3 linked regions of the Homo sapiens genome follow. The protein of the gene in region 1 purifies or fractionates together with the protein of each later gene. This does not show direct contact. Each region holds a gene or a part of one and is shown in the gene's direction. Other genes may lie near its edges. The genes, in order: MSRB3, KLHL7 and BTBD9.

Region 1 (10,949 bases):
CATTCTGTTTTCTTTCAATAGGTGTATTAACACAAAGCACCAGGTTCTTAACGGGCTTCTTCCTTTCTGCAGAAGTAAATGTGACTTGTGAAAAAGAAAAAAAAATTGCACCAGCACTTCAGCAACATCGCCCCTCTTTCATCATTTTGGGGATTCAGGCTTCAGCTCAGTAACTCCAGACATATTTTGGGGAAACATAAAAACATGCCCATAAGTACTGAACATAAAACCTGACTGTACACTCAAAACATTTGTACAATCCTATGATCCATTTACCATCAAGTTTCTTAAAGTGTGCATATATTTTTAAAATCACTAGAATAAATAAAACTTTGAACTAGATGCTCTTTGAGATAAGGTGCTGCCCAGAGATGTCTGAGGACTGATGCTCTATGAGTCTCTTATGAAGTGAACAAGCTTCTTGCCCATAAAAATAGATAGATGCTATGATTTCCAGATAACCCTTTTTCCAGGAAATTAGATGAGGATGGTGACAACAGGATAGTCGTTTTGTTAAACAAAATTTTAACTATCCAAACTAGGTACTGAAAAAGCTTGCTTTCTAAGGAGGCATGGAATAGTTGAAAAGTTAACAGCCAGACCAATTGATTGTGTTTTGGAAAACATCGTAATGGAAGATTCATAGTGCTTCAGGGCCATGCTGAGTGACTCTGAAGACAAGAGAAAGAGTGGTGAGAGAGAGCCTTCTAAGTTCAAGGATACTCTAGAAAACTATTGGATGGTCTAAGAATGTCTCATGAAGCACCAAACCCTAATGCAACTGTAATCTGAATATGAGGAAAGGGTTAAAAAATAACTGTACTCTTGCAAAATATATTTTCCTTCAGCTTTTGACCTTTCTTTTTTCAGGTTGAAAAGTTAAACATACACTAAGGATTTTCATTATTTGCTTAGTATTTCTTTAAAATGCATTCTAACCCAAGGCTGTGTATCTCTCCTCTCTGCTTTGATTCTTGTGCCTGCTGTGTCCCAGGTTGGCCTTCATTCCACGATGTGATCAATTCTGAGGCAATCACATTCACAGATGACTTTTCCTATGGGATGCACAGGGTGGAAACAAGCTGCTCTCAGGTGAGTTCATCCTTTCTGAAAACCCAATACATTGCTTTCAGGACTCCTGGTTGTGCTAAATATAGCAACTAAGGCCAAGCGACTGGTCACAAGAAGGACAGACAAGCATGACGAAGTTTATATGAAGTCCGATGGATGCCTATGTTCAGGTGTTTAGCAAGTCTAGTGGAATGTTAAGGTCGGCATGATAGCTCAAGCCTGTAATCCCATACTTTGAGAGGGCCAAGTGGGGAGGATCACTTGAGGCCAGAAGTTCAAGACGAGTCCGGGCAACCTAGTGAGACCTCGTCTCTACAGAAAATATTTTAAAACTTAGCAGGGCATGGTAGCATATGCCTGTAGTTCTAGCTACTCAGGGGGGCTGAAGCAGGAGAATCACTGGAGCCCAGGAGGTCGAGGCTGCAGTGAGCTGTGATCATGCCACTGTAGTCTAGCCTGGGAGACAGAGCAAGACCCTGTCTCATAAATTAAATAAATAAATAAATAAATAAATAAATAAATAAATAAAATGTCAGTTATTGGCTTCACCACTATTAAACAAAATCATTGGTAGGAAAAATATCATCTTCAATTGGCTCAGTAAATTGAAGAGTGGGCTGTTCTTGGGGCATATGAAGATTTCATTATGTGGCTTTGAATAACCTGATATTTTGATAATCTCCCTCTCCTTGCAGTTCTGTGTACCCACTGTTCAGTCAGAATGCCTCTACTGGCAGTGATCCAAACACAATCAAGGAAGACCTCAGAAATGGCTTTTCTTAGGTGGGTGTGAGGAAGGTGGTTGAAGAGAGGCTGTAGGAAGTGAAAGTTCAGTGGTAGGTTGGCTACATGAGATAAGGTAATTCCTTTTCTGCTTCTCCTGATATACAGACATCCTCATTTCCAATAATTTCCTAATTAGTTCTGTCCATCTGCTTTAACCAAATTAATGCTGGCTCTAAGGAAGCAAATGAGCATGTGTTGAGGAGGAGGCAAAAATAGTTAATCTGACACCCACAATCGAGAGACTTGAACTTGTGGGTATTTTGTGCTTAAACACAGAGACATAGAATCTCCATCTACATGGAATAAGAGCAGCTGCATATTCTATGGAAGGCAATCTTGTTCTTTCAACCTGCTTTAAATAAGTGAAATGTAAAGTCTGCAATATTGTGGCATTGAAAGTTATTGACACCACAGGGTATTTTGTTGGGGAATCTGTTGGACATATCAGAGGTACAGGAGCATGATCAGGCAGCTGTAATAGCAAAGTGATTGCCATATGGGCCTCCCTCAGCATTCTTTACCTGCCCTTTATCCATTTTTCTTTAACCCCCTCCACCAGGCACAAAATGTTTAGGGAGTAGGTGGCATATTTACTACCAAGTAGGGAGGGAGGTTAGTTTGAACCTAACCTTCTGATGAATTTTTGTTTTTATTAAAAAAAAAAAAAAAAAGACTGGCAAGTCTCCTGTCCTTCAAGTGTGAGGACTACTCTCTCTCTTGAAAATTAGACTTCATATTTTATCTGAATCACATTTTCAGCTCACTCTTGTTTCTCAGAGTGGAGTCTCTGATGGTGATAGTGGAACTTTCTGGTGCTGGGTTTCACCCACAGAGGGTCTAATGTAATTGGACAGGTTTAGTGTGGGGAGCAGCATTTTTAAAAGCTCCTCTGGTTAGTGCTCACCATAACCTTCTGAGGTAGGTCCTTTTTTCTCTCTGTTATTTTACAGTTGAGGAAACTGAGGCACAAAGAGAGCAATTAAACTTGGGTCAGCTTATGTGGATTTAAGTGGCAGAGCTGAGACTTGAATTGGGGTACTCTCCAGAGCTCTTTATGGTGCCCAGATAGATAGACAGGTTGAAAAGAGTCATTAAAATTTAAAAATCTCATGATTTTCCAGCAGTTGGCTTAATGCGATATAGTTTGGGGTTTTTTTTGTTTTTGAAATGGGATCTTACTCTGTTGCCAAGGCTGGAGTGTGGTGGCATGATCTTGGCTCACGGCAACCTCCACCCGCCGAGCTCAAGCAATCCTCTCACCTCAACCTCCCAAGTAGCTGGGACCATAGGTACACACCACCACATCCAGATAATTTTTTGTATTTTTGGTAGAGATAGGGTTTCACCATGTTGCCCCACTGGTCTTGAACTCCCGAGCTCAAGTGATCCACCTGCCTCAGCCTCCTAAAGTGCTGGGATTACAGGCATGAGCCACCGTGCCCAGCCTGCAATTTAGTTTTAAATTCAATTAAATTTGATTGATGATTTTATAACTGTCACAAAAAGGTAAACTATAAGTAGGATGGCTTACATTAATTTGTAACTTAGGTACACAGTATTTAGTAAACCTCTTTTAAGACTAATCGTTGTTTCTTTTATTTTCTTTTTCAAGCTACAAATGCTGTTACGTGATCGTTTTAACTCGTTTTCACTCAGAACCCATTTTCAAACATTGAATCTTATGAAAACTAAATTTAAAAGGCACAGAAAAATGAAGCATAAGATATTAACTTTACTTATGGCCCTACTTTCTAACCTCTTTGTGACAAATTCTTATAATTCACTGTTGGAATAAGCTTCTTTCTTTCTCTGTGCCAGTCACATAGATAACATCAGTAGTAGTCTAGGAAAGATCATTATGAAGATGTCCTACAGTGACCAAAGAGAAATGAAACCCACAAACAATGCCAAAATTAGGCAACATTCCTAAAAGAAGTCAGGCTAAACCAAGCATAGCTGTTGGCCCCTCAGTTAAAGCCCAAGGTGACTGTTCCTGTTCTTTCCTAACAGTTGTGTGATGAACCAACACTGACCTGCTCCCTTTTGGCTTCTTTTTCCACAGCCTTCACTTTTCATATTTAGAAAGTGTTTGACTCTTTCTTAAATAGAACTCTTAAATTTAAAGAAAAGAGGGAGAGGAATTTGTTCCGCTAAGGCATGTATGAAAATACACGCTTTGGAGTAAAGTAAGTTCTATGCAGGAGAGAATGAGGTTCCAGCACTAACGAATGGTATGTGTGCCACACCCTTGCCCTTGTGGATGGAGGAGGGGGTGTCTGCCACCTAAGCACAAAAACAGCGTACTGAATTCAAGTGGACTGGGTATCTTTCATTTCAATTTCTCTGTCTTTTATTTGTGTGTTCCATTCACGTTTATTTTCCTTTTGTTTTATAATTTTCTTTCTTTTTTTAAAATTTTCCTTTTTCTCAGGCATCTTTTTTTACCTTGACTTGATAAAATAAAAGATTTAGTAGTTCCCATGCTAGAGCAGTCACTTGTATTTTACTTCCTAGTTTCTCATTTTTAGCACTATTTTTTCATTATCTGTTTATCTTCTTTTACCTTACAGTTTTTCAGTTCATGTAGTCTCTTCTTCTGCTCAGAACTTCTCCCGTTTATTTTATTTTATTTTATTATTTTTTATTATGCTTTAAGTTCTGGGAAACATGTGCAGAACGTGCAGGTTTGTTACATAGGTATACACGTGCCATGGTGGTTTGCTGCACCCATCAACCCATCATCTGCATTAGGTATTTCTCCTAATGCTATCCCTCCCCTAGCCCCCAATCACCTGACAGGTCCTGGTGTGTGATGTTCCCCTCCCTGTGTCCATGTGTTCTCATTGTTCCACTCCCACTTATGAGTGAGAACATGTGGTGTTTGGTTTTCTGTTCCTGTGTTAGTTTGCTGAGAATGATGGTTTCCAGCTTCATCCATGTCCCTGCAAAGGACATGAACTCATCCTTTTTTATGGCTGCATAGTATTCCATGGTGTAATTGACAAATGGAATCTAATTAAACTAAAGAGCTTTTGCACAACAAAAGAAACTATCATCAGACTAAACAGGCAACCTACAGAATGAGAGAAAATTTTTGCAATCTATCCATCTGACAAATGGCTAATATCCAGAATCTACAAAGAAATTAAACAAATTTACAAGAAAAAAAAAAACAAACCCATCAAAAAGTGGGTGAAGGATATGAACAGACACTTCTCAAAAGAAGACATTTATGCAGCCAGCTTCTCCCATTTTTTAAGAGTTTTATTTTATTATTATTATTATTATTTTGCTGGTGAGATAATGTGGGAAACTATTCTGGTTTGCTCTCTTTCTAAAATTCTTGTTGTATTCTTAATTTACGTGGCTTGTCTTTTCTCTGGACTGAGTTGCCTCAATATGGTTTGTGTTATAAAAAATCTATTAGATGCTTTTAGTGTGTTGTAGACATTTTCAGTCGGATGTGTTATGTGGTGTATTTCTTTCCTTTTGGTAAAGATGGAATATCTAAATACGAAGAACCTTTAACTGCCAACTTCTACAAATGAACTGAGCCTTCATGGACAAAACCTGAATCAACTCAACCTGATCAGCAGTTTGGCAATATGGCAATATTTCATTGTTCTTTTGGTTCCTACCTAATTCTCACTTCAGTGCTTAGGATCCTTTTTTAAAAAAAATTGTGGTAGGGATGACACCATGCATACAGTGAATTAGGCCTCATATTTGCATAGGAATTGTAGACTCATTGGGAGCCAATAGCCTACCACCGCTTTACAGTACATTGTAAAGAGGTTTGTCCATGTGTCCAGTGACTTCTCAGATAATGTTTTTAGTAAAGATTTACTGAGAGAGTTCAGATTGGTTCAGTCCTATCACCACTTTTTCTAGAAGTGTTGCAGTGAGGTTCTTCTAAAAGAATTGTTGTGTAGGAAACAGCACACTGCCTAATCTTTGCATTGACAGCACTGAAAACAAGCAAGGGTCGGAGAGATTCTTCACTGTCTTCATTATAATTGTTGCTTATGGGTACCCTGTTATATTCTGATTTCTGTTGCAATTTTACTTGTTCTCTTTTGTTATTCCACCTACTGAATTGAGGAATTACATTTCAGTTATCTCTTCCAAAGAGGATCTTCATCTTAAATTTACTCGCTTTGGTGGGCACATGTATTTTCCCTCCAGCTGCAGCCATCTTGTAACAATTTTCAGCTATAAAGAATTTTCCTTGATTTAATTTATATTTTCAACTAGTGATAAAATACATTGCTTCTATTCCAGTTTCACTGACTACTATGAATAATTATTCAACAGCCTCTCCCTAATCCTCCAACCCCAGCCTGTTAAGCAACGCTTTGTCAGGAGTTTAAATTCAGTGCAAAGAAGTAAGATTTCCACAGTTTAACCTGCAGTTCAGTGAAGTAAGTTCCTTCTAGAATACTTGGGGAATTCTTCCTTCTTCAGATCAAAATCCTCCAGCTGGAGCAAATGGGAGACTAATAAATCACTTAACTTTTTGTAATATTTTTTTAAGGAAACCATCAGATCTCTGAATTTACCCACGTTGGAGTCTATTTATGAGTGCTGCTATTACTGCTTGAGTCTATGGTATAGTCCCTTAAGTTTGTTTAAGATCATTATTAATTTGTTCTAAGTCAGCCAAATCAACAGAAAGGTAAATATGCACCAATAGAAAGTATTTTTCAAAAGTTAAGCAGTTTTTGGTAAAAACCCCAAACCTTATTAATCTTCTACAGATGACAACTCACATATTGCTGATGATTAAAGATACACATGTGTTACAATAGGGCTTCAGACTCACAGCCCATCTCTCTTTTTCTTGATCTTTCAGTAAAATCATAATGCTAAACTGGTGACTTCACAGTCATTTCCTTGGCAAAAGATTAATATCACAAGCACAGAGGAAAAAAAGCCCCCACTTACACACAAGTGTCTTCAATAACAGTGGGAGAAAACAGAATACTACTGGCAAAGTAAATTGCTTTTCTTCTTAAAACTTTTCCCATCCTGCCCCATGTGTCCAAGTGTAAAAGCCCTGCTTTGAAAATGCTTCATTTCATAGATCAAACACTTAAGAGAAAATGACAATAATAAAGCCCAAACATCCTAGGAATAGCTAGGAGAAAAACCTCTAAGACAGTGGGAAATACATCAGTGCAGAAAAATGTAACTGTGTTGAATACACTATTTGTGTTTCTTATGTATACAATTGAGAACTGCAGTCAGATTTTAAGGAATTATGTTAAACTTGATGCTCAAACACTTATTTTAGGGGGTCCTTTCCCTTGGTTCTCTGCAGGTTCTTTAGCTGCCAGCTTTTCTGAGTGGGAGGCTTAGGTGATAAAGGATTGTTGTGAGAATTCAAATTTTTTCTTTTGAACAATCATCTGATGCTCTTCAGAATGAAGACCAGTATATTCAGGTACATTTACCTGTGAAATAAAGAAACACATAACCATTAAAAACAACATTCAAAATGCACACTAAAGATTCTATCCTGAAATAAATCATTAACAGCAGGTCTCAGAGATTTCTTCATCGAGCAACCAGTTTGTTTCAGTTACAACCAGGTGTACTGAGAAACCCCAACACATTGCCAGTTGGCTGGGGCCTGGGAGGCAGAGCTTGCAGGCAGCTAAAGAAACAATGCTCCTCTGGCAACTTCCATTTATCCTCCCAGCTTTCCCAAGGCTAGAAGCTGCAAAGAATGGGCTCCGTGCGCGTACTCTCAGGGAGGAGCCTTCAAGGCTTGTGCGCTTTTCAAAGAAACCGGGTAACAGTCCTTTCTGGGAGACTAGGTTTACCTGGGAGGAGGCTCGAATGGCACTGCGTGGTTAGGCTTCCCTCAGACAAATGGCTTTGCCGGCAGTGGGGCGGGGATGTATGTGGTGCCACAGATACAGATGAACACCTTTCTATGTTTTGAGATGATGCTCTTCCCTTAGTAACCTAAGGCTGCTATGACTCTTCCAGAACACCCTGTGGCAAGTATAATGAAGCCATAACTATCATTTTCAGGGGACTCAAACCGTTTCTGAGGATTTTTCTACCCCCATCCTCAACCCATATATTTGTTAGCAAATAGTTTTCATAGTCTTTTTCTAACTATAATTTCTCTTCCTCACTTTTTTTTTTTTTTTTTGCCTTGGATTAGGGACACACCTAGAATCAGTGTTTTCCTTTCTATTTAACCAGAATACTAGTACCAGATTAGCAAATGAAACTACAGGTTGAAAACTCACCCAGTTCAACAGATTCAATTACTGTAATTTGGATTTTTAAAATATGATTTGGGAAATTAAGACCATATAACTCATTCTTAAACACCTTCAAATATATCCTCACTATGCTTTATTTTTGGTGTAGAATAAATAGAAATATTTTCTAAAGATGCTCAAGAGATTATTAGCAAAGGCAATATCATTTATTTTTCCCAGATAGCTGCATTCTCTCATTAAACACACACACACACACCCCTAAGGCTTTTAGGTATATGAAAACTTCATCTCTTAAATGCCAAGTGATCCAAGTGCTGGAGCTGCATCTGAGATCAGTAATTGTGCACACACACTGGTCACTGAGAGCACTGGTTCCTGTTGGACAGCACCTTGACTATTTTGGTAGGCAGAAATGGGTGTTTCCTGTGTCCGTTGGGCAAGCATATGTATTTTTACTGGTTCATCTTAGCTGTGGATGCCTAAAAATTTGGCATCAATTGTTTATAGAAAGGAAAAGCAGTCTGACCTGTCAGCCTTGATATTACCTAAACCTGCATCGAATGTGGTAAAATAATACAAGATTTGTTTTTTAGGCCTGTTTCATATTTTCTAGGCAATAGATCAAATCAGTTCAGGGTTCATTTTTAGCTCTTTAATAAACTGACAGAGTTTGCTGGCAGTGAAATGAGAATGCACTTTTAACATGGAAGTGCCATACAGTCAAAGTTGCTATTTCTGCTATTTATTAATAACTAGGGAATACTTGAGAATTGAGCTTAGCATGTTCAACAGGGAAACTAAGATTCTAGTGCTTTTCATTGTAATGAGCACTTTCTCTCATTTTTCTCTCTTCATCTCCATTTGGTGTCTCATCCCCAGTCCCTTGTGAATTCATACTCTTTCCTTGAAACTTATAAGTGTTTTATACACCAAATCAGCACAGTGAGAATTAACAAATCATTGATATGCTTTTTCTCTCATACTCTTACCTAAATCTTGACTCTTCCCTCTTCTCGAAATGCCCTCCCCTAGAGATACACTTCTTCCAGGTCCTTATTCCAAAGTCACCCCAGGTAGGCCTCTTCTGACCACCCTATCTAACATTTCATATCACCTTCCTTTTTTGCTCCCTTAGCATTGCTTTCTACCTTCCATGCTTTATAGTTCACTTGTTTTCTTGTGTACTGTCTGTCTCTCCCACTAGAATGTAAGCTCTATGAGGCCAGGGATTGTTGCCTGTACTCCAGAGTCTAAAACAGTGCCTGGCATATAGCAGGCACTCCATTAATAAACGAATGAATGGAAGTCATTTACCCCAGGCTTTGGTTTCTTTGATCCATGATAAATGATGGATTTTCACAGCCTGCTTGAATATGGTGCACCAGTGTCTCCATCTCGTTCGCCCCATCCCTGATGGAAAAGGGCAGTAGATATCTAAGTGTGACATGTACCTTCATCTCCTGGAGCTGTACCCAGCATCAACGCAGTTAGTGTAGGGGTGTTCACTGAGCCAGCCTTTTTGGAGAAACTTTCTCTGGGCTTTATTTCTCTCAAACACCAACATGATGTTCCTTCTGCCTCTGTCTAGACCTTAGGTCTCTTCTTCCCCAGCTTTTTGAATAGTCAGTAAAATTGATTTTAGCTAAACAGCTTATTGCTTTTCTTTATATTAGAGTTCATTTGGATAAAGAAGCCAGCATGACACTACTTGTTGGAAGCCAGGAAAAAAACAATTGTGTGTGCTAGAGATGTTTCCTTTTGCTACATTTGCAGCCCTGGTGACTGTGACATAAATCTATTGAGCCTTGCCATTGCTTCGCTGGGTTCCAAGAACATCCAATACTTGTCTGATGTTAAGTTTTACTGCCCATGAAAGCAAACATCACCTCTGTCATGGCCAGTTAAACAGTATCTTTTCAGTGGACTTCTGCATATCTGAAACCCACCCATCCAAAGCCAAAAGTAATGCCGGGGGAAAGATTTTATGCTGCCATGTTTCTTACAAGGGAAGATCAAGGGTCAACTTGATTCATAAAATTACTGCAGTCATTTTTCAGCTGGCTGAGAGACTTCACAGATCAAAAAATACGTGGCTCCTAAATGATTTCTGATATGCACAATTCTAGTGTTTTTTGTTCTCAGCATGTGGCGCAAAGCCTGCCAGAAACCATCTTTGCGGCTATTGACAGGCGGATTAGAAATCATCCACGATGGTTTCCTTCATTTCTCTACAGGCTGGTCATCCATTTAAACTGCTTAATGTGAATTCCTCTCAAAGCCTGCTTTGTACATGCTTTTCCCTGACGTTTTGTTCTTCTCTTTCAGTGTGGTGCTCACCTTGGGCACATTTTTGATGATGGGCCTCGTCCAACTGGGAAAAGATACTGCATAAATTCGGCTGCCTTGTCTTTTACACCTGCGGATAGCAGTGGCACCGCCGAGGGAGGCAGTGGGGTCGCCAGCCCGGCCCAGGCAGACAAAGCGGAGCTCTAGAGTAATGGAGAGTGATGGAAACAAAGTGTACTTAATGCACAGCTTATTAAAAAAATCAAAATTGTTATCTTAATAGATATATTTTTTCAAAAACTATAAGGGCAGTTTTGTGCTATTGATATTTTTTCTTCTTTTGCTTAAACAGAAGCCCTGGCCATCCATGTATTTTGCAATTGACTAGATCAAGAACTGTTTATAGCTTTAGCAAATGGAGACAGCTTTGTGAAACTTCTTCACAAGCCACTTATACCCTTTGGCATTCTTTTCTTTGAGCACATGGCTTCTTTTGCAGTTTTTCCCCCTTTGATTCAGAAGCAGAGGGTTCATGGTCTTCAAACATGAAAATAGAGATCTCCTCTG
Region 2 (10,949 bases), on another chromosome or scaffold:
TGTATTGTCCTGTTTAACATCATAACACAGGAAACAATTGACCGAGAATGACTGACAAGGGCAGTTGATGGGAATTGGCAGAAACAGTGGCTGGTCTGAGCCAGAGTAGGAATGTTTGAGTGAGGACCAACTTTATAAGTGCTCTTGTTCTTTAGTAAATATTTTTGTGTTATGACTACTTTTACATCCCTTTACAATCTCATTGCTTTAAGGATCAGGATAATGAGTGCCTAGATGACAAGGACCCCTCTGTAAACATCCAGAAACATTCCTTCAAGAATTTGAGAACATTGTGAGATTAGCATACCTCAGTTCCAATCCTGCTCTCTCATTATTTCATTTTGTTATTTTAGATAACATGATTTGGGTCATTCCATCTCTCTGTAGTATAGTGGCCGATTCTATACATAGAGGCAAAAGGGGATTCTGCAGAGCCAGCAGCCTCGGCTTCTTCTAAAGCCTTTTCCTACATTGTTTTTGTCATTTCTAGCCTTTTGTTTCTAAGTAAACTCTCCAGTGAAGTATGGGATACATATAAGAGGGCACAAATCATAAATGTATAGCTCAATTATTACAAAGTGCACATCCCACCAACAAGACGAGAACATGACCAGTACACCAGAGGTCCCCCCTTATGCCCTTCTCAGTCACCAACCCCACAGTAGTAACAACTATTCTAACTCTGTAACCATCGAAGTTAGAGCAGAAGCAACCATTGATAAATACCATGCCATGCCATCTTCTAAGGGCACTATGCACCCCTGTTATTAAGAGGAGCTCTTTGTTCTGTCTTTGGTGTGTGGTGCATTCATGAAAGTCTGCAGCACATCGGCAAAAAGTGGGTTTTTCCTGTGTTTGAACTTATATAAATGTAATCATATGGCATAAACTCTTGTGTTTTGTTTTCTTAAAGCCAACATTGTTTGTGAGATTCATCTGTGCTGTGTGTAGCGCTACTTCATCCTTGTGGTATATAGTATCCCATTGAATGAATATAGCACAATTTATCCATTCTATCATTATGAACATTTGGGTTATTTCTAGTTTGGAACTATTAAGACTAGTACTACTTTGAACATTTTTGTACACTTTGTACATGCCTTTTGGTATGCATATGTATGTATTAATATTTGTGTTGGGAAATACCAAACAGGAATTTTTGAGTCATAAGCTATACCACCTTCAGCTTTAAAAGATATCGTCGTGTAGTTTTCCAAAGTGATTGTACCATGTTACGCTTCTGCCAGTTGTGTGTGAGAGAGGTTTTTGCTCCGCATCCCTGCCATCACTTGATGTTGTCAGTCTTATCACTTTAGCCATTCTAACTGGGTGTATAGGAGCATCTTATTTAATTGGATTGAGTACCTTTTCATTTATTTCTTTAACTTTTTGCTTAGATTAATGTTATTACCTGATATGTAAAATAGAGGCTTTACAAGGCAGGTCTGGGTCACAGTCACTATTGCACATGCACATTGCTGTTGCCATACTCTTCTTTTGTGTTAATGAAGTCCAGGAGTCTCTTAACATTGGAGGAAGATGTTTTAAGACCTTCCTGAGTACCACCATAGTTTATAGTTTCTCCACATTAAATGAATTAAAGCATAACTGGAACTTGAAAGCTTATGTTAAAGTCCTTATTGAGAGTTATGTGAGAGAACTACAAAGCTGATTTCACAATTAGATACTGGGCAGTTAACTGGGCTCACCTTCCGGCTAAAATGACTTTGCTTCTGTATTCTCATCTGTCTGACTGTAAATTACTACATGTCATTATCTTTAGGTTCTCTTGTGAATAATCTAAACCTTCAGTGTTAAACCCTTGATATTAATAAGACTTCTTGAGCACTTATAACTGTTCCAGCCACTCTGCAGAGTGTTTTACATGCTTTGTCTCATTTAATTCTCTTAACTTTCATTGACAATTCCAGTCATCCAGACCTTCTTATTCTTTTTCCTGTACTTTACTGTTTTCTGTTTTCTTTTTCTGTCTGTCCAGCTTAGAAGCTATTGTCACTCCACTGTCTCTCCAGTGTCCCAGTTTTCTTGACCCTCTGTCCCTTTTTCATGTCCATCTGGCAAACTTGAGTATTGATGACTGATTACCTTCTTTGTGCAAGGCTCCAAGCACAGCTGGAAAATATCTCACTGGGCAACTTCTGCCAAGTAAGTGCTTGGCCACTAATTTCCACTAGACTATCAGTGCCCGTGAGCAATCTTTTTGTTTTACTATTTTCCTCCAATCTGAGTCCTTTCTCTAGATCCTCACTTTCAGCAGATCACCTTCTTTTGACACCATAGATAAATAGAAGTCATTAGTCTAGAACTGTCTACCTTTTCACTTTCTACCACCAGATCTATAAACCTATTTTGACACTTTCCCTTTTCTCTTCTTATCCTGCTACAATGGAGATGCTGCTGCTTTTTCTAAGGCCAGTACTTCTACCTAGGCTTTGGCTTCCTGGATGCTGGGCTTCTCAGAAGTATTATACTGTTGGTTATTCCATCTTTGTTGAGCATCTTTAACTTTTCTTCTTTGCTGGATTCTTGCTATTAGCACTTAAGCTTGTTTTAACCTCTCCAGCTTTTGAACCAAACAACCAGCAAACCCATTCTTAATCTCAACATACCCCTCTAAATACTTCTCTCCCCCCATTAAGATGAAAAGCTGAGTAAATTCACTACATTTTCTTTTGTTTTTTTTTTAATTTTATTATTATTATACTTTAAGTTTTAGGGTACATGTGCACAATGTGCAGGTTTGTTACATATGTATACATGTGCCATATTGGTGTGCTGCACCCATTAACTCGTCATTTAGTATTAGGTATATCTCCTAATGCTATCCCTCCCCCCTCCCCCCACCCCACAACAGTCCCCAAAGTGTGATGTTCCCCTTCCTGTGTCCGTGTGTTCTCATTGTTCAAGTCCCACCTATGAGTGAGAACATGCGGTTCACTACATTTTCTTACTTACTATTTATTTATTACTCTAGTTCAATTTGGCTTCCAAGTTCATTCATTGAAATGAATACTTATTGACAACCCACTGTATGCTAAACATTTTGCTAGATTCTGGGGTTGCAATGATAAGCAAACCCTGACAGTCCCAATCCTCTTGTGGTTTATAGGCTAGTAGAAAAGCAAGACATTAGTCAAGTAATCACACAAATAAATGTAATATTGCAACAGTGGTAGGTATTACACAGGAGAATAACATGGTACAACGAGGGCATATGGGTGGGTAATTTGACCATCAGGAAGTTTTCTCTAAGGAAATGGTCATTGAGAGCTGAAATAAGAGTAGGTGTTAACTAGGTAAAGAGAAAAGGGAAGAGTGACTCAAGTAGAGGGAACAACATATTCAGAGGCTCTGAGTTGGAGACCTACTTTATTATAGAATGGCAAGTTCGAGACTGATTAAAGGTCAGTGTAATTGGAGCACAGAACATAAGGCGGACGATGGTTCTAGATGAAACTGGCGAAGTAGCTAGAGACCTGCCCATGCATAGCTTCATAAGTCAAGTTAGGTGATTTGCCCTTATTCTAAAATCTGTGTATGCATGTTTGTGTGCATGTGCATGCATGTTTGTAGAGATGGTATGTTTTCTTCTTTAAAAAAGATGACTTGGCCTGGCACAATGGCTCACACATGTAATCCCAGCACTTTGGGAGGCTGAGACAGGTGGATCACCTGAGGTCAGGAGTTTGAGACCAGTCTGGCTAACATGGTGAAACTCCATCTTTACTAAAAATACAAAAAATTAGCCAGGCATAGTCGCACGTGCCTGTAGTCCAAGCTACTCAGAAGACTGAGGCAGGAGAATTGGTTGAACCCGGGAGGCAGAGGTTGTGGTGAGCCAAGATTGCACCATTGCACTCCAGCCTGGAGACAGAGTGAGACTCCGTCTCAAAAAAAAAAAAAAAAAAAAAAAAAAGACTTACTGCTTTGTGGTAAATGAATTAAAGAGTTTTCAGAGTGCTTGCTGGCAGACCAAATAGGAAGCTGTAGTGGTCCAGTGAGACATGATGGTCCTTTGGACTGAGGTGATGACAGTGGCAGCCATAAGCAACATCAATGAAGAAAAAGTGATAGATTAAAAAGATAATAAAATCAACAGGACTTGGTGATGATAACTGCCATATGTGGTTGTGATAACTAAATTAGGTAACCAAATTAAGATAACTTAAAATACGACCTGATAACAAGTAACATCTCAGTAAGTGTTAGCTATTTGTATTGTGATGCTGGTACATGATTGGATGTTGAGGGATTCAGCATAAGGTGTCACTTATGATCTCTAGGGTTCTGGAATGCATAACTAAATGGATGATGACACTATTCACTGAGAAAGGAGGTATTGGAAAAGGATCAAAGCATTGGGGAAAGGATTATAATTTGTGTTTTAGATGTGTTTAATTTGTGATATCATTGTGACACTGAAGTATATATGACAAATTGACAGGTCTGGAAAGTTGTGGGTTAGATGTATATATTTGTGAATTATCTGCATATAGAAGATAACTTCTTCATTGAAGCTGTGAAGAGTCAAGAGTCCAGAGTCCAGAATAAAGGATAGAAAATGGGCCTATGGAGGAGATAACAAAGGAATCACCAGAAGAATAGGAGAAAAATGAGAGTTTCGAAAATTGGGAAGAAATTGTTTCTCCTTCCCAGCAAGTCAGGATGGCCAAATGGTCTAAAGCACTGTATTCACAGGAGGACTGCAACTTTTGAAGCTGGTAAAAGATCAGAATAAGATTAAAACTAAAAATACTTATAGTAGGACATAGCAACACAGAGTGGTTTGTTGACTGTAGTAAGACTTATTTTGATGGGCAGACAAATGGGAATCAGATTAATGTAAGCTGAAGTGAGTAGAATATGAGGAAATTCTGGCAGCTGTTTTGAGAAATTTGGCCTTGAAGGGAGAGGGAGTCAAACGAAGGTTGCTGGGTTTTATTTGTTTAAATGGGAAAGATATAGGTGTCTTTAAAAACTAGTGGGAAAAAGAGATGTAGAGGTTGGATATATATGAGACAGAGTGGGCAATTAATAGATAATTCCTGATATGAGATCCAAAGCAAATGTGATTAATCTCAGACAGGGGTGGCGGGGCAGTTCCTCTTCCATAAGAAGTGGGAAGAAAGAGGGGATTGATAGTAGGTGTGTTTGGAATCAGAAGAATGAAGGAGTTTCTATCCAGTGATTTCTCTTTTCTCTAAAAAAAAAAAATAGAATGAGATCATCTGCTAAAATGAAGGAGTAAGAAGGCAAAGCTGGAGGTTGAGGAATGTAGTCTTTGCGAAGAATAGAAATGGTATTATGGCTGTCAGTATTTTTGAAGATTCTTTTGACATTGTTATGAACTTACGTTGAATATTAAGCTAGCCTTCAAAGCCCTGTCTTTTGTTCTTTTTACCTGAACAGGAGGTAAAAATGAGGAGGCTAATATAGGCAGGTCACAGTCTTAACTTTCAATCCCATGGAAACATTTTTCTATCACTTGGTGGAATCACTTTTCTTTTGGGCCTCAAAATCTCTAAACTAACAGAACCCACTAGCAGAAAGACTAATTGCTGAGATTAGAAGCAAAATTTTTGTAAGTGAATCATTAAGTATAATATTGAAGGGAGCCAGGCCGGGCACAGTGGCTTACGCCTGTAATCCCAGCACTTTGGGAAGCTGGGGCAGGCAGATCACTTGAGGCCAGGAGTTCACGACTAACCTGGCCAACATGGTGAAACCCCGTCTCTACTAAAAATACAAAAATTAGCCGGGTGACGCATGCCTGTAATCCCAGCTACTCAGGGGGCTGAGGCATGAGAATCGATTGAACCCAGGAGGCGGAAGTTGTTGTGAGCCGAGATCGTGCCATTGCACTCCAGCCTGGGCAACAAGAGCGAAACTCTGTCTCAAAAAAACCCCCCGAATATTGAAGGGAGCCTCTTCCATTTTTTGGTTGCCAGGCTGTTAATTCTTGCTACATAGAGACCATGCTGTCTATATAAATTATATCAGATTAGCTTATTTGAGAATGAATTCTGCTACATAAAAAAGAAGCTTGAAAAGCACGAATGTAAGAAGCTGAAAGGAAATGAGGCATCTTGAGCTCATATCTACCTCACTTCCTCACTTTGTCAAATGAGAGAGGAGTTGCTAATCTAATTAAGTTAGAACTGAAGACACTGTTGTTTTATTAATGGTAAAGTTACTCTGTTGAGGGCTACCTTGTTGTATTTAAGGAATCCATCTGCTGAGTAGGACAGGTAAGGTATGTGTTATGATGGACTCCATAAGCTGGGTTTGGGCCAAACCATCTCTCATTTTTCCCATGTAGGACATACGACTGTGCAGCTTCCAAAATTTAGATTATTGGGATATGTAGGGGCAATTTAAAGTTTGGCTTATCAAGCAAAGCCTCATTTTCCAACTTTGTTTTATGAGAGAAGCACTGCATATGGGAGATTAACAAGTACTTGCCCTTCAGTCAAAAGTGCATCTTCTTATGTCTCGTTTGGTTATTGATACTTCCTTATATAAACAACCTGAGTTGAGAATCTCAGTGGGCTGAATGATAGAATTCAGGCACCAAAGCCCCACCCCAAACTCCAGCACAAAGTAGCTGGACCAAGTAGCTGTAAGTTCTTTTTTCCAAGTTTGCCTTGTCTTTTGGTCTATTTTCTTACTAGCTCAGGGAATGCTTTGTTCTATCTTAAATGCTTATGTGGCTACTTTCCTCTACCAATAACTGTTCTTTTTTGTATCATCCGAATACCAGCTTAAGAGGTTATTTAAATTTTTACCCAAGAAAGCTTTGAAATGGGTGGATAACTATTAACACCAGGCCTTGAGATACTACAGGCTGGCAATTCACTTCTATTTCCCATCTCAAATTTTTCTAAGCCAAGGTGTCATAGCTCTCTAGATGTTCTGTGGTGAACCAAATGACAGCCTAAAGCACTCCATATAATTCTGTATTAGCAACACAGAATCTCCCAAATCTGACTGTTATGAGCCCTCTCATGATTAAATTCCAACATCTATGCTCATCCTCTGAATTAAAATGAAAGGCAATTGAATTCCAAATATGTGCTCACCCTGGTTTCTTATACTGTTCAGTTTAGTCAGCCAGAAAGCGTTTGCTTGAGTGTTTGGGTACAGTCAGGGTAGCTTCTTCAGCAGCTGCAATGTGGGCTGGCTTCCATTGGAATGGATTTAGTTAGCTTAGCACCTCCAAAGCTGAATTTGTCCAATTTCAAGGTAGTTGATGCCACACTTTCCGGTATGTTAGAACGTCCCTAGGATTGATATAAGAAGATCTCTCATCTCTGTACCAAACAGCCCAGATGTTGACATTTTATTTATACAGTCCTAACCCACATTATTTTTTGCAGCCAAAAACAGAATATAAACTTTGGTTTCTGGGGAACAGAGGGTTTTCAAAGAAAACATAACAATCTTGGCTTTTGGCTTGCCAGTCTGAATCAGCTTTCTGTAATCTATAGACTCTAGGGCTAAACTCAGTTGGGAGGAATCTTCCATGCTTATAGGGGCACTGTTTACCATCTATAGAAGAGATTTATTCAATGTATATTGATGCTTCTCTGGCATAGGACTCATTTTGGGTTTTTTTTGTTTGTTTTTTTTTTGAGATGGAGTCTCGCTCTGTCGTCCAGGCTGGAGTGCAGTGGCGTGATCTCGGCTCCCTGCAACCTCTGCCTCCCAGGTTCAAGCATTTCTCCTGCCTCAGCCTCCCGAGCAGCTGGGATTACCGGGCGTCCACCACCACACCCGGCTAATTTTTTGTATTTTAGTAGAGACGGGGTTTTACCATGTTAGCCAGGATGTCCTCGATCTCCTGACCTCGTGATCTGCCGGCCTCAGCCTCCCAAAGTGCTGGGATTACAGGAGTGAGCCACTGCGACTGGCCAGGACTCATTCTTTTTCTTAGACAATTGTTAGAGATTTGCCAGGGTGATAATACTCAGCTACCAGGTATCATAGAGTTTCCCTTTTTTCCCTATTATCCATCCTGCACATTTAAAGCTTAATTTTGATATCTTTTTTGAACCCTATGTTCCTGGCAACCTAATGCTGAAATGATTGAGTTCTATCTAATGACAAAGCCTTCTCTCATTTTTGAGAGGAGAGTGATTTACATTTGTAGCCAGCAGTTCTGCAGAGCACAGTTTGTGGCCTTGCATTCCTTACAATTCTGAGCTTCCTGATTGTTCTGCACTTTTGTGTGCCCATTAAGATCCTGTCATGCTGTGAAATTCCTTGTATCTATGAATCCTGTCTCTTGGAGGGGTTTGTCCTCCTTTCCTCTCCATTTGTCTCAGCTGGAGAATGGCCTTTAACATTCCTTTAAGGCCCGTGGTCCCACAGGGACCACTATGGCCCTTACAGCATGCTCCTCAAAACCTTGCTTTTCCTCAGTATTTGAAATTTCTAGGCCTTGCAAACTCAGCAGCAGCGCAGACATGTTCCTTTCTGTCACCTATTTGTGTCAAAATGGGCTATGTCTCTAGTGTTGCATTTTCCTCTGTGGTACATCTGTTCTTTCAGGCAGCCTCAGCTGACTTGTTAACCTGCTTAAGTTGGATCTTTTCCTTTCTACATCAGGTAGCTGACCTTTTTAGATTAGAATACCTTTCTTTTTCTTTTCCTTATGATTTTGGTGTTTGTTTTGCTTGCATACATATTCCTCTAATGCCTTTCCTACAGAACTTCCCCTAGTGGAAAATAAGAGAGCACATGTGTTCAGAATTAGCTCAGCTACTGCCAGCCGTCACTACTCTCAGAAAGGTAATTCTAATTGTGGGGATGTCCAGCATATAACTTAGAGCTGGACTACTTTTGGGTTATTTGACTTACTTTAATGTGATCTAGTACTCTCCCTTACAGTCTTAATTCCACAAACTTCTCAGTTCCACTATATACCATATGCCATATAGCAAATACCACACCTGTCTTCCCAGCAATATCACCTTGAAAATTACTTAATAATGCAAGAAATACTCTTGCTGATCTTTCTCCTTTTCAAATCTGTCTGAACTTAATTGTAATGGCCTATTATAGTTGTCCTATTCTTTAAGAGAAATCCTCTAATTTTCTCTTAATATCTTTAGCATTAAGAGGAATCATAAAATTTTCCTAGAGCCAGGCCTTTTTTTTTTTTTTTTTTTTTTTTGAGATCAAGTCTCGCTCTGTCACCCAGGCTGGAGTGCAGTGGCATGATCTCAGCTCACTGCAACCTCTGCCTCCCGGGTTCAAGTGATTCTCCTGCCTCAGCCTCCCGAGTAGCTGCTATTACAGACGCGCACCACCACGCCTGGCTAATTTTTGTATTTTTAGTAGAGTTAGGGTTTCGCCATGTTGGCCAGGCTGGTCTTGAACTCCTGACCCCAGGTGATCCACATGCCTTGGCTCCCAAAGTGCTGATCCAGGCCTTTCTGAGAGAACTGTTTTAACCTACTCCTGAATTCTTACTTCTCTTCTTCTATTCCTGTTTGGTCCATAACACCTTCCTTGAATAAATAACAAAAATAGCTTTTTTTTCTTAGTCCCAGCTCTTAAAGGGCAATTATGCCCAAGTCTCCTTTCCTTTGCAAAGCTGTTTGGCCTGACCTGGCATATGTTTCCCTTAAGGAAGGCAGTCCCTCTTTTCCTTCTGCTTAGTCTAGGTATCTTCCTTTGTTTTTCCTTCACTATCCCACTTGCCTTATTCTAATTGTGTATGTGTTTAAGTTCAATCCTGTTTTTCTCTGCTTTTCTGACAAATGTGATTTCTAGAGAAGTCTTTTTAATGTTTCTTAGCCTTTGCATTTATTATTGCTTTATTGAAGCTTTTCTAGTAACTAATCCAAGAAAATTATTTACCCCATCTAATAAGGGCCTCATTTCCCTTTATGTTTTCAGTGATTTAAATCTACCACCCAGCTGTAGTTGAATCTACAATCTGCTCAGGGATTTATACTCAATGCCAATTTGATATCATGCTGGGAGGGACTGATTGCAGAACCTTCTTGACAAGCCACATAAATCTAAAGGTTAGTCATTCCTCAGTCTTCTCTTTGGGATATAACAAAGAATAGAACGTGGGGCAGTTGACTGCATGCCTCTTACTAATGACAGCACATGTGATTAAAAGCTAATCCTCATACAGTGCTTTAGCACTTACATGGACCCAACTGCCTTTTGTAATCCTGTCGAGTAAACTTGATAGAGAGCAAAAGGTCATGATACCAACAGATGCCTAAAATGTCTGCTGCTTCTGAGGTGAGCCTTTACTAGAACCAAAGGATTCTTCCTGTAAAAGCCCCCAAATCTTTCAGGCACTAAAGCAGCACCAAAGTTTCTTTCTTTATGACGCGTTGAGTATCTGTGCATACATATTTGAGGACCCGTCACTACTAGTTCTAACTATAGGACATTGACCTGAGCATTAAATTGGGCTTTCTATTCTTTCTTCCCTAAACTAAACTTACCCACCCAGTCTGAGGCAGAGCAGCTGATGAGCAGGAACAGTCCTCTCCTGCCAGAGGAGCAACCCTGCCCCAATGATTGATGTCCCACTTTTGGGGCAGACCTAGGAAAGAAGAATGAGCCAGAATGCCTGGCTATCTGTTGTCGGTGTCCTCTGCCACACTCTTGTTCATCCTGTATTCACTCTTCCACATGTGATGGATGGAGACTGAAGCTTCCTTCTCAGTACTTACCTTCCCAGGGGAAGAGGGAATACATTATGAGTGAGGAATCTCATGGTTCCTTAAATGATTAAGTTATCTCAGTATCATTTTTGATTATCTGATCTCTTATCACATTATTTCCTAGACTTTTTTTTTAAGAGCAGTTTTAATTTCATAGAAAATTTGAGCCAGGTGTGGTAGCTCGTGCCTGTAATCCCTATACTTTGAGAGGCCAAGGTAGTAAGATTGCTTTAA
Region 3 (10,949 bases), on another chromosome or scaffold:
TCCCAAAGTACTGGGATTACAGGCTTGAGCCACTGCACCTGGCCAAGAGCCCACTTTTTATTAAGTCAGAACTTCTCAGCCTGTGTTTATTGTTTATTAGTACAGTGTACCTTGTCCTCTTTCAAAAATAATTTGAAACAACTCTATGAGGATATCTTTTAGGTGATTAGTATATCCTTAAAAAAAACTCAAATACTTTGAGAAATTTGAAGATCGTATTGAGTGAATGGAATATACTCCCCCCGCTTATTGACCTTGTTCTTGATGTCTTTGTAGATATTGAACCTTCGTAATATTTGCTGGCTCACTAAGCTAAGCTCAGAGTCTACCTTAGACTATCTTAGAGCTAAGCTCTACCTCTAAGTCTACCTTAGAGCTAAGCTCAATGCTACCTTAGACAGGTTCTCAATGCTGACTGTATTCATGTGCAAAGGAATGTTAATTGTCAGCTGTCAGAAGAGGCCTAAGTGCTGTCATAATAGCCTATCAATTCCCAGATAAGGAATTGTATAGGAGGAAACTTCATAGTAAACATTGAACCTCTGTGCTTGTCTCCTTGTTGAAGTTGGGGGTTCATGTTTATTGTTCCAAGGGAGCCTCATCAAAACCACTTTTAAAGCATTGAGAATCCAAATAAATACCATGGATCATACAGGATTGGGGATAAGTCTTGAGGTCTCCCCGAGAAGGAGAAGTTCTTTAATTTGGTAATTTTAGGGTAATGGTTGGATGCTCTCTGGATTAATGGAAACCTTCAGGGGTACTTTTAGGCAGAGTATAACCCAGTGAAGAGGTATGCTCAGAATATTCATGAATCTTTTCTGGGTGGTTTCAACTATTTTTCTGGGGCAAGCAAGAATGCTAGGTCCTGGGGGAGGGTGGGACAAGTTCCAGGTAGGTAAACCTGAAATGCTAGTCCTACTCTGAGAATTTTAGCAACACGGAGAATCTCTTTCTTATTTCCAGTCTCTTCCTCTCACTTTTGCATCTTTTCTTTCTCATTCTGTATTCTTCTCTCCCTTTTCTGCACTTCTCCCTTGTCCTCTTCGTCCTTTCTTTCCTGATAGATTGGAAGTTTAATTGGTTCATATTATTCCTCTTGATTGATAGAGGTAGAAATTCAAATTCATTACCTAACTGGATTGTCTAGTTTTCATTTTTTTAGATAAGCAATAATGTAGGGCTTTTTGTTTAATCTGAAAGGAAAAAAATAAAAAATCACTGTAATCCTATCAGTAATTTCATTTTTAATTTATAAAGTAACAGATGAAAGTCTTTGTCTCCCAGCCATCTAATACCATTTCCCAGAAATAAGTGATGTTAAGAGTTTAATATGAATTTCTTCTGATTTTTCTTGATTTAAAGAAATACCGATGTAGACATATGTGCATAAACATGTAAATATTTGGTTATGTACTTTTTTAATGCAGTACATATGGATCTGCAATTTTATTTACTTGCCTACCATATCCTGGACATGTTTTCAAAACAGTACCTGTTGATCTCCCTTGATCTTTCTAATGGCTGCATAGAATGCGTATATCACAGTTTTTTTAACCATGTTGCTGCTGATGGACATTCAGATTTTTACTAGTGTTTCAGTATGTTTTCTTACACATTTTTCTTTACTGTATTACTTCCCTAGAATTGAGTCCTAAAAGAGAGATTACTGAGTTGAAGGGTATGCACATTTTAGATTTGACTAGATGCTACTAAATTACTTTCCATAAAGGGCTGCCATTTATACTCTCAAAGCAGCATATCAAAGAACATGTTTTTCCATTGCTTTTGCAGCACTGATATTAACAAGCCTTTTAATTTCTGCCAGTCTTACAGGGGAGAATGGCATCATATTAGTGTTTATCTGATTATATCTTTTCCTATAGAGTTTTACTTTTTAAATTGCCTTATTGACCTTTAACATCTTTATATCAACTTCATTGTGCCTCTCAAAAGATCACTCTCATCTTTCTATTTAATATCTGTCACATATCTTGAGCTTTCAGAGTATCTCATTAGTTCAGTGGCTTACAGAATTAATTCAAATAGTTTTAAAATCATTCCTCTTGTGTCCTGTAAAGAACCATTTTAAATGATTACTTTGCATTTTTTCACTTGGATCTTTGTGTCATTAAAAAAATTTATATTTGCATAATGTTGATAACTGTTATTTCCAATATTTTGTAGCAAATCCTATTTGAGGGTTTCTTCATGTGTTTCTTCCCTGATGTGCAGAGCATTATTATATGGTGGAATGCGAGAGTCTCAGCCTGAAGCAGAAATTCCTCTCCAAGACACCACTGCAGAAGCATTCACAATGCTACTCAAATATATCTACACTGGGCGGGCAACGCTGACAGATGAGAAGGAGGAGGTGCTGCTGGACTTTTTGAGCCTGGCTCATAAATATGGATTTCCAGAGCTAGAGGATTCTACCTCTGAGTATCTCTGCACCATACTTAACATTCAGAATGTCTGCATGACTTTTGATGTTGCCAGTCTCTACTCACTTCCCAAGTTAACTTGTATGTGCTGCATGTTTATGGATAGGAATGCTCAGGAAGTCCTCTCAAGTGAAGGTTTCCTCTCCCTTTCTAAGGTGTGTCATTTGTCTACAAGTAATTTATAGGCATGCATTGTTTTATTTATACCTATACTGTAGAAGTATAGCAATGGACTAAGAATAATAAAAAAAATCATTGGTATCAAAGCGTTATCATTGGTTATCTGGTCTAGCCACTTGCATCTAGCTACCAGGACTCTAGATCATAAAAGAGAGGGGCTGGTTGGTTGTGTTTTCTTTTAAGGTTCTTCAGGTAAGTTTTATGTGCAAAAGAGACTGTGCTGCTGTGTGGTTGTTTTCAAGGTAGTGACAATCAAATAGGGTCCTTTTTGGTATTGCATACTACCTTTTGGTTTTGTTTTTCTCTGACAGAGAGTGTGACTAATAATTCCTTAGAGCAAGCAGGCAAATTCATAGAGGAGATCTGATGCAACATTTGATGTCTTTAAGTCCCTGCTTTTTTTGCTGGCTTAAAATTCAGTATTATAGCTAGAGTAAAACTGTTTTGCTCAAATCTTCCTTTGAACTCTGGGTAGTGATTGTCTCTCCATTTGCCTTGTTGTGTTCCTTCTAGAACCTGGATATTTCTAATGAGAAAAATCTATTGAAAAGCTACATATCTTGATTTGAGTGTAAATTAAGATCTGTGTTATCCTATTTCATTTTTTTCTACTTAATTTTTAAAGACAATGATCTTTGAGGGTTGCAACATTGTTCCTGGAGGTCAGTTTGGAGATCTGAGAGCCAAAAGTATGGTAGTGAAGTAATACTGTGGAACAAAATTTGAATTTTAAATGCCAAATATGTCTTTCTAACTTAACAATGTACACTCTCTTGAAGAATCTGAATGTATTGACAGCTTTTCACTTTGGCGTTTTTCTTTTTGCTGTTTTAAAAAAGATGAATGCAGATGTGTTTGGAAAGATTAAATGTTTGATGTAGTGGTACAAGATACCTGAACATAAAAGAATGGTGCTACCGTCTTGGTTGTTTACACAGCCATAATGAGTAGGAGAATATGTGGCACAAAGCATAAGGGAAGGAGAGGGTCAAAAAGAGTTAATTGGCTAAGTTATACTTGTCCTGTAAGCTTTTACTGATTGGTCATGCAGTGGTTGAACTTCATATAACTGGAATTTTACCTTTTTATCCTTTTCAGACAGCACTTTTAAACATCGTGTTAAGAGACTCATTTGCAGCTCCCGAAAAAGATATTTTCCTAGCCTTATTAAACTGGTGTAAGCACAATTCAAAGGAGAATCATGCTGAAATCATGCAGGCTGTGCGTTTACCTCTCATGAGCCTCACAGAGCTTCTGAATGTTGTGAGGCCTTCAGGACTGCTGTCTCCTGATGCCATCCTGGATGCCATTAAAGTGCGATCTGAGAGCCGGGATATGGACCTCAATTATAGAGGCATGCTCAGTAAGTACCTGTCTATCCTAAACTCAACCAAGAAGCTTGGTATGCCTCTCATGCCATTAAAACCGCAAAGCTACTACAGAACCGTGTAGTGCAGGTGTACATGAAATATGTACGTTTATAAACAGCTAGCCTATGGAATGTCTTTCCCTTTCATTTTCCTGTTAATTCCTCCTGAGATTGATTAGCTTTTGTAGACCCCCAAATAGGTATTTCTTGCCATTCCTGGACAGATTTCTCAACTCCTCCCCAGAATGTCAGAAATGGACACTTTCCTAAAAAGCTGCTGCTCATGTTAAGACCTTTTCTTCCTTCCTCCATCAAATAAATACTGAGTACATTCTATGTACTTATTATTTTGGGTACCATGAACATGGAGATTCTTTTTTTTTTTTTTGAGATGGAGTTTCACTCTTGTTGCCCAGGCTAGAATGGAAGTTGCAATCTCGGCTCACTGCAACCTCGCCTCCCAGGTTCAAGCGGTTCTCCTGCCTCAGCCTCCTGAGTAGCTGGGATTACAGCCACCCGCCACCACACTCGGCTAATTTTTATTTTTAGTAGAGACGGGGTTTCACCATGTTGGCCAGGCTGGTCTCAAACTCCTGACCTCAGGTGATCCACCTGCCTTGGCCTCAGAAAGTGCTGGGATTACAGGCATGAGCCACCACGCCCGGCTGAACATGGAGATTCTAAATAACAATAATAATAGCTAACACTTATGTAACATACATACATAAGGTAGCTAACACTTATGATACTTATCACCACTTAAGTGGTGATTTTTCTTATTAATGGATTTATAGCAATTAACACTTACAGAGTGCATAGTATGTATCAAGAACAGGTCCTACACGATTTAATTCTCACAACTCTTTGAGGTATATACTGTTATTGACTCCATTTTACACAATGAGGAAACTGAAACAGAGAAGTTAAGTAACTTGCCCAAGGTCACACAGAAAGATGACAGAGCTGAGAGTCAAACCTATGTAGTTTGGCTCCAGAAGTTGTGTAATTAACCACTAAACTATGCTGCATAATTGTTAAACATAGTCTCTGCCTTTGATCCTTTTAATTTCATTGTGGAAATAAGACATAAACTCCCATGAAAAGTTAAATACAACAATATTCAAGGGAGTACATGTTATAGAACTTCAGAAGAAGTGGCTTGGTATGGTTGAGGGAGATTTCATGGAGGTTATGAAGCTTGAGTTGAGCCTTGACATTTGATTTGAATAGTATAAGAGTTGGGTGAATTTCAGATGGGAAGAATCATGAGGTTAATAGACAGAGGTTAGAGCATTTGAAGAGACCATAAATAGAAGAGCTTGATTAGAGTAGAAGGCTTTTATTGATTAATAGCAAAGAAACTATGTGAAGGTCAGCTTAGGCCAGTTTATGGAAGTCTTGGAAACTAGATTGGAATCTCCCTTACATGCAGTGAGGAACCAATTTGAGAGAGGGAGAGTGGCATGCATGCAGTGGTGGTTTTGAAAGACTGATCCATAGTGCTGTATTTGAGTATTTAGAATAGGGGAAAACTGATTCAGAGAGACCAGTGAGGAGAGTATTTAATCTGTGCACAATTGATACTACCTCAAACCAGATTGGTGGCAGGGAAAATGGAAAATAATGGATGATTAGAACGGATACAATGGAAAAAAATAGATCTTGATGATTCAAGGGATATAAATGTGGGGATTAAGTTTAGGAGAAAGTTACCATTTGTTATCAAATCTAAGAAGCCAGAAATTCTCAGGCACCATTATTTTATGTTCCACTAAGAAAAGAAACAATACTGCCAATTAACTGTGACACACTATGATGTCTACACTGCGATTTCAGAAATTTAAAAATTTGAACACTAGGTATGTCTGTAATGAAATACAGTACAGTACTTCTTTGAAGAAGATGCTGAGCTTGATTTTTAGATTGAGTTTGAGGGTTTTGGGGTTGCAAGTTGTAACTTCTGTCCCAAACTAGTCATTTCCCTGAGTTATCTCTTCTTGACTATGCCTTTAAACATTCTCTTGAAATACTGATTGATCTTAAATAGATGTTCTTAACAGAATTCTCTCCTGACTTATCAGGTCTAGATTTCTTTTCACTGGGCATAGGAGAAGAAACATAGGTTTTGGCCCAGACAAATTTGACTTCAAATCCTGAATTAGTCACTTACTAGTTGTACAATCTGGTATTAAATTATTTAAGGAATTTTACCTTTTATATCTCCTAGCATTGTTATGAGACTTAATTAAAATAATGTGTGCAAGCTCAATATAGGAAACCATTGTTACCATATATCATTATGATGTGTTTTTTTTTCTGTGTATATCTGTGTGAGAATTACCACCTTGATCACATTGTTTTAAACATTTTTGTTTACTTGTCTTTGATCCTTGAAGGCAGAGATGATCTTTATAGGCCTTATTGATCTCTATATCCTCAACATTTAACACACCAAATAGCATATAATGGGTAATTGGTGAATGCTTGGTGAATGCTTAGTGAATGAATGCAGGGAGAAATGTCTAATAGGAAATAGGAACACATTACTCTTTAGGACCAGTCAAAGCTGGTGATAAAAGAGTTGAAACCTGAGCTGCTAGAGTATAGAAAAAGAAGTAAAAAACAAAGTCTGAAACTTGGAGAAAACCTATTGCCAGGGGACTTAAGGTAGAGAAGGAAGAAGGAAGACATTTGGGATAGAATAGAGTTACAGAGGACAACCGGAGGAGAGAGCTTTCCTATGGATCCAATGGTCAATGGTAGCTCACGATAGGGAGGTCAAGAAAATTGAGAGACAACTTTTGGATATAAATTGTGATTAGTTGATAAGTAATCTGGACAGAAGATTGGCTGCCAGGGAATTAGGCCATGGATGTTTGAAAAGATAATAGAGATAACATATTGTCTGTCTGATTTGTGAATTGGATTGTAAGGTAGTAAAAAAATAGTATGGTAGCTAGAGAGATCAGGTTGGGAGAGGTCCAGGAAGAAATCAGAGGTGCTAGAGAATGGTACTAGTTAAGTGTCAGCCTTGGATAAAGTGTGGGAGGATGGCAAGTGAAGAGGTAGTAAGATGAGTAATTAGTGTTAGGCTTTTCAAATTATCATGTCGGATCCTGTCTTATATAAGTTCCTTTCCCTCTCTTGCCCTGCATTTGATTTGAAGTGCTGAAAAGGCCCTAGAACTGGATTCATTATAGGGATAATCTTGGGACATGTTTGCAGGAGTGAGGATTTGTTTTGGACATTTCACATGGTTACTGGTAGTTTGGAATTGATCAACTGGTCAGTATAAGGGTAGTACCTGGGTTACAAGAAACTCAGGAGATGAGTTGCGAAAGGGAGAACTTAGCCAGTTGAGTCACTCAGTTCTGGAATGACACATACACAGATTGTTGTTCATCAATGTTAAATTCTTCACTTTGAAGTGAATGAGGGGGAGCTCAAGGAAGAGACTATGTAAATGTTTGGGAATCCTTTATCTAACTTCTGAACTTGAGTAATGATTAAGTAAGTCTGTTTTTCCTGACTTTTAAAGCATGTGAATAATAAAATCAATAATATAAATACAAGGAAGCATTACACTTCCCTGTCAGACCCTGAAAAGATAGGTTTTTTTAATTCAATCATCTTTATTAATCTATCAGTCTTACATTTTATACATGACATCTAGTCGTATTCTAAAAGGGCTCTACTTTTAGTACATCATGTTAATAGCAGAAAGCCAAGTAAGATGACTAAACCTTACACTAGCATTTTAATATCCTCTGGACAAGGGAAGCTAGGTCAATCACTTTACATACATGTAAGAGTAGTGTTCCAAAATAACTAAGAAGTTGCTATATTTTTAAGCAGGGAGGAAAGAACTTTGATTTTGGTCTTTGTGTTCCAGCAAATTATACTTTCAATTAACAGCAACAAAGATATAACAAATGCTCTGCTTTTAAAATTTGTGAACTTCATTACAGATTAAAACAGTACTGGAGTCTTTTGGGAGGCCAATAGCTAGCAGCTACATTAATTGGTGTAGATAAGCCTCGTTATCGATAACCAGGTCCAGGTTTGGTATAGCCCTGACCAAAGGGAGGACATATAAGGATTAGGCCCAGTTGGAGGAGGGGTCATGCTACTTACAGGAAGTGAAGTAAAACTTGATCTTGGTCTATAGGCCCCAGGTTGGCTTGGAGCCATTCTAGGTTGAGAGGCAGGGGCCACAGTATAATTAGTAGGCTGAAAAGTTTGGGTAGTATAAATTTGTGCAGGATAATTGCTTGCCTGGTACTGTGTGGCAGCTGAGCAGGCAGTTGTTGAGGCTGACCAAAAAGGCAGGAGCTGGTGCCTGGGTAGTTGGTTGCTGGCCATATCCTTGGAACTGCTGAGGTTGTTTGGAGTCCAGTCTGCTGACTCTGGCTTTTTGAATACTGAATACCATACTGTTGAGGCTGCTGAGGTAGAGCCCGCAGACACGGTGCACCATAGCTAGCCTGTTGCTGGTACTATTGATACAGCTGACTTTCAGTCTGACCTGCTTGTATCTTAGCTTCTGTATATGGTGGTTGCTGTGGCTGAACTCCTGGTGGGTGAGCTGCTACTGAGGAGGAGGCGGCAATGCTGTCAGATGTTCCTGAACAGTCTTCTGCAGGAGCACTGGGTTGCCCTGAAACCTGATCATCTGTTAAGCCAAATGCCGACGTAACATTATTTTTTATTTCATCTTGGTTTTTTAAAAGGGTCAAAAGCTGACATACTTGCTGCCATAACCTGAGTAGACTGTTTTCCAGAAGAATCCGAAGAAGCAGGCTTTTCTTCCCTACCATTCACAGTAACATTTTCAGGAATATTAGTGGAAGGTCCTGGTTTTCCAGGTGGTTCCAAGCTATCCAATAAGTGATTCACTTTATTTCAAAGTTCTGTCAGTTCTCGACAGAGATATTTCACCTGACTTGATTCAAGGGGTCTTCGTTGGCCATTAACAAATAATGTCAATTTCAGTGTCCTACTACACTGAATTGCAAAGGAAAGATCAGAACTATCAAAAATTGTTATAAGATCGTCATCTGCATCTTTATACTTTATTGTTACTTCAACATTACGCAGAAGTTTTCCCCTGAAAACTCGTTGCATCATTAGCACTAATTCATCATAAGTAATATTAATATCTTCATTATGAATAGGAATTTTTGGAATATCCTCCCCAAGTTGAGCTTTCATGATTACCTTCCCACTTAGGTCCAACTGTCTGTTCATGGTGGACTCCAGGATGTTCTATCTATACAACCCTAGAAAAAGAGGGCTTGTGGAGGCCACCACCGCCACCTCTCCACAGGTCTCCACTGACTGGGCCGATGTCAGGCCGCCAGGCTGGGGTGTTGCAGGGAGTCTGTGGTCACTGACCCCTCGGTTGCCCTCCATGGCCACTGCACCTCACTTGTAGGCTCATGTGGGCCCACCCAATCTCCAAAAATAGGTTATTTTCTAAGTAAATTTTATCCTTTTTTTTTTTTTTGAGATGGAGTCTCACTCTTGTCACCCACACTGGAATGCAACGACACAATCTCGGCTCACTGCAACCTCAGCCTCCTGGGCTCAAGTGATTCTCCTGCCCCAGCCTCCCGAGGAGCTGGGATTACAGGTGCCCACCACCACGCCTGGCTAATTTTTGTATATTTAGTAGAGATGGGGTTTCACCAGGTTGGCCAGGCTGGTCTTGAACTCCTGACCTCAGGTGATCCACCTGCCTCAGCCTCCCAAAGTGTTGGGATTACAGGCATGAGCCACCACGCCTGGCCAGTAAATGTTATCTTAACATTCATGACATTGTTTTCTTTTATCAAATTTCTTCACTGTTAGGGGAAAAAAAGGATATAAAATTTCAGAAGTGTTCCTGGGCTGACGACTTGAAAAGATAGGTCTGTTTATTTTGAAGTTATTGACAGAATTTGGTTTTGTTGTTGTTGTTGTTCAGAATCTGGATGTAGATTCTGTGTCTTTGGGGACTTCTCATGAAGTGTAGAGAGGTTTTATCTTGGGACTGGGATATAGAGACTAATGCTTTTTCTTTGAATTTATTATCGTTGGTTACTGTAAAGTTTAATTCTTAGAGCTGCATGTCCTAAGGCTTTTACCAAATTACAGGGATTTTTTTTCCCCCTTAAAAAAAAAAGATCCAAACAGTGTTTTAAACTTATCTGTGATGGTCTTTCTGGAAGGTAGTTTAGACTAGTTTTATGCATATATAATGATGAACATTTTTCTATACAGCTGGGGAAAGAGAATTAACTTTTTAATGAATTTTTTTTTCTTAGGATATTTGAACTACCTGTACCTCTGCCAAACATTTAGCTTTGTCTTAGCTGTGGAGATATTTCTATCTATCCTAAAAAGTTAGTGCTTTTTTGTTAAGGCTGAGTTATATTTCATTTTGTATATCTCAGGTTTTAGATTTGGGGAAAGAGAGTAATTTCTTGTTTCTGAATGTTTATAGTAGGGAGCATATCACAAATTCTATCCTCAAGATATCTTTATTGAATAAAAAGTCAATCTGTTCATAGGACTGCTAAGTTACATTATTGGTTAACACATAAATATGCGTGTGTGTGTGTGTGTGTGTGTGTGTGTGTGTGTGTGTGTGGTCTGTCCTGTTTACCCTGTACCTATCCCTATAGTTTCCTCAGACTGAGGGAGCTTGCAACTGTGATATTATATTTCTTGGTTTGTTTGCTTAGATTCTTATACTAGGTTGAGCTTTTTGAACAATGTAATTATGTTGTTTTGCCTTTGTTTTTCAAGCACCTACCTAGTAGCACAGTGCCTGAATCTAGACTTTTGTTTTGCTAAGTGATAAATGAGTGGCTGAATGAATCCATCCCTGGCTTCTAAACTAGAATTTAAATTTGTCTCATCTATCACATAAAGACAGTAATAGTAACAGTGAACCTTTAATACTTTCAAAGCTC

Evidence for each region.
Region 2: the proteins of MSRB3 (region 1) and KLHL7 purify together in Homo sapiens (affinity purification with mass spectrometry; 2 studies listed by BioGRID and IntAct, with this or other methods). This does not show direct contact.
Region 3: the proteins of MSRB3 (region 1) and BTBD9 purify together in Homo sapiens (affinity purification with mass spectrometry; 2 studies listed by BioGRID and IntAct, with this or other methods). This does not show direct contact.

The regions. Positions count from the first base shown.
Region 1 is NC_000012.12:65,452,734-65,463,682, forward strand, and holds part of MSRB3 (methionine-R-sulfoxide reductase B3 isoform 2 precursor), read left to right. Parts: intron 1-994; coding exon 995-1,092; intron 1,093-10,421; coding exon 10,422-10,589; 3' UTR 10,590-10,949. UniProt on the Homo sapiens protein: Catalyzes the reduction of free and protein-bound methionine sulfoxide to methionine. Isoform 2 is essential for hearing.
Region 2 is NC_000007.14:23,107,910-23,118,858, forward strand, and holds part of KLHL7 (kelch-like protein 7), read left to right. Parts: intron 1-9,924; exon of another isoform or gene 9,925-10,001; coding exon of another isoform or gene 10,002-10,055; intron 10,056-10,949. UniProt on the Homo sapiens protein: Substrate-specific adapter of a BCR (BTB-CUL3-RBX1) E3 ubiquitin ligase complex. The BCR(KLHL7) complex acts by mediating ubiquitination and subsequent degradation of substrate proteins. Probably mediates 'Lys-48'-linked ubiquitination.
Region 3 is NC_000006.12:38,585,614-38,596,562, reverse strand, and holds part of BTBD9 (BTB/POZ domain-containing protein 9), read left to right. Parts: intron 1-495; exon of another isoform or gene 496-793; intron 794-2,187; exon of another isoform or gene 2,188-2,227; coding exon of another isoform or gene 2,228-2,235; coding exon 2,236-2,599; intron 2,600-3,722; coding exon 3,723-3,987; intron 3,988-10,949.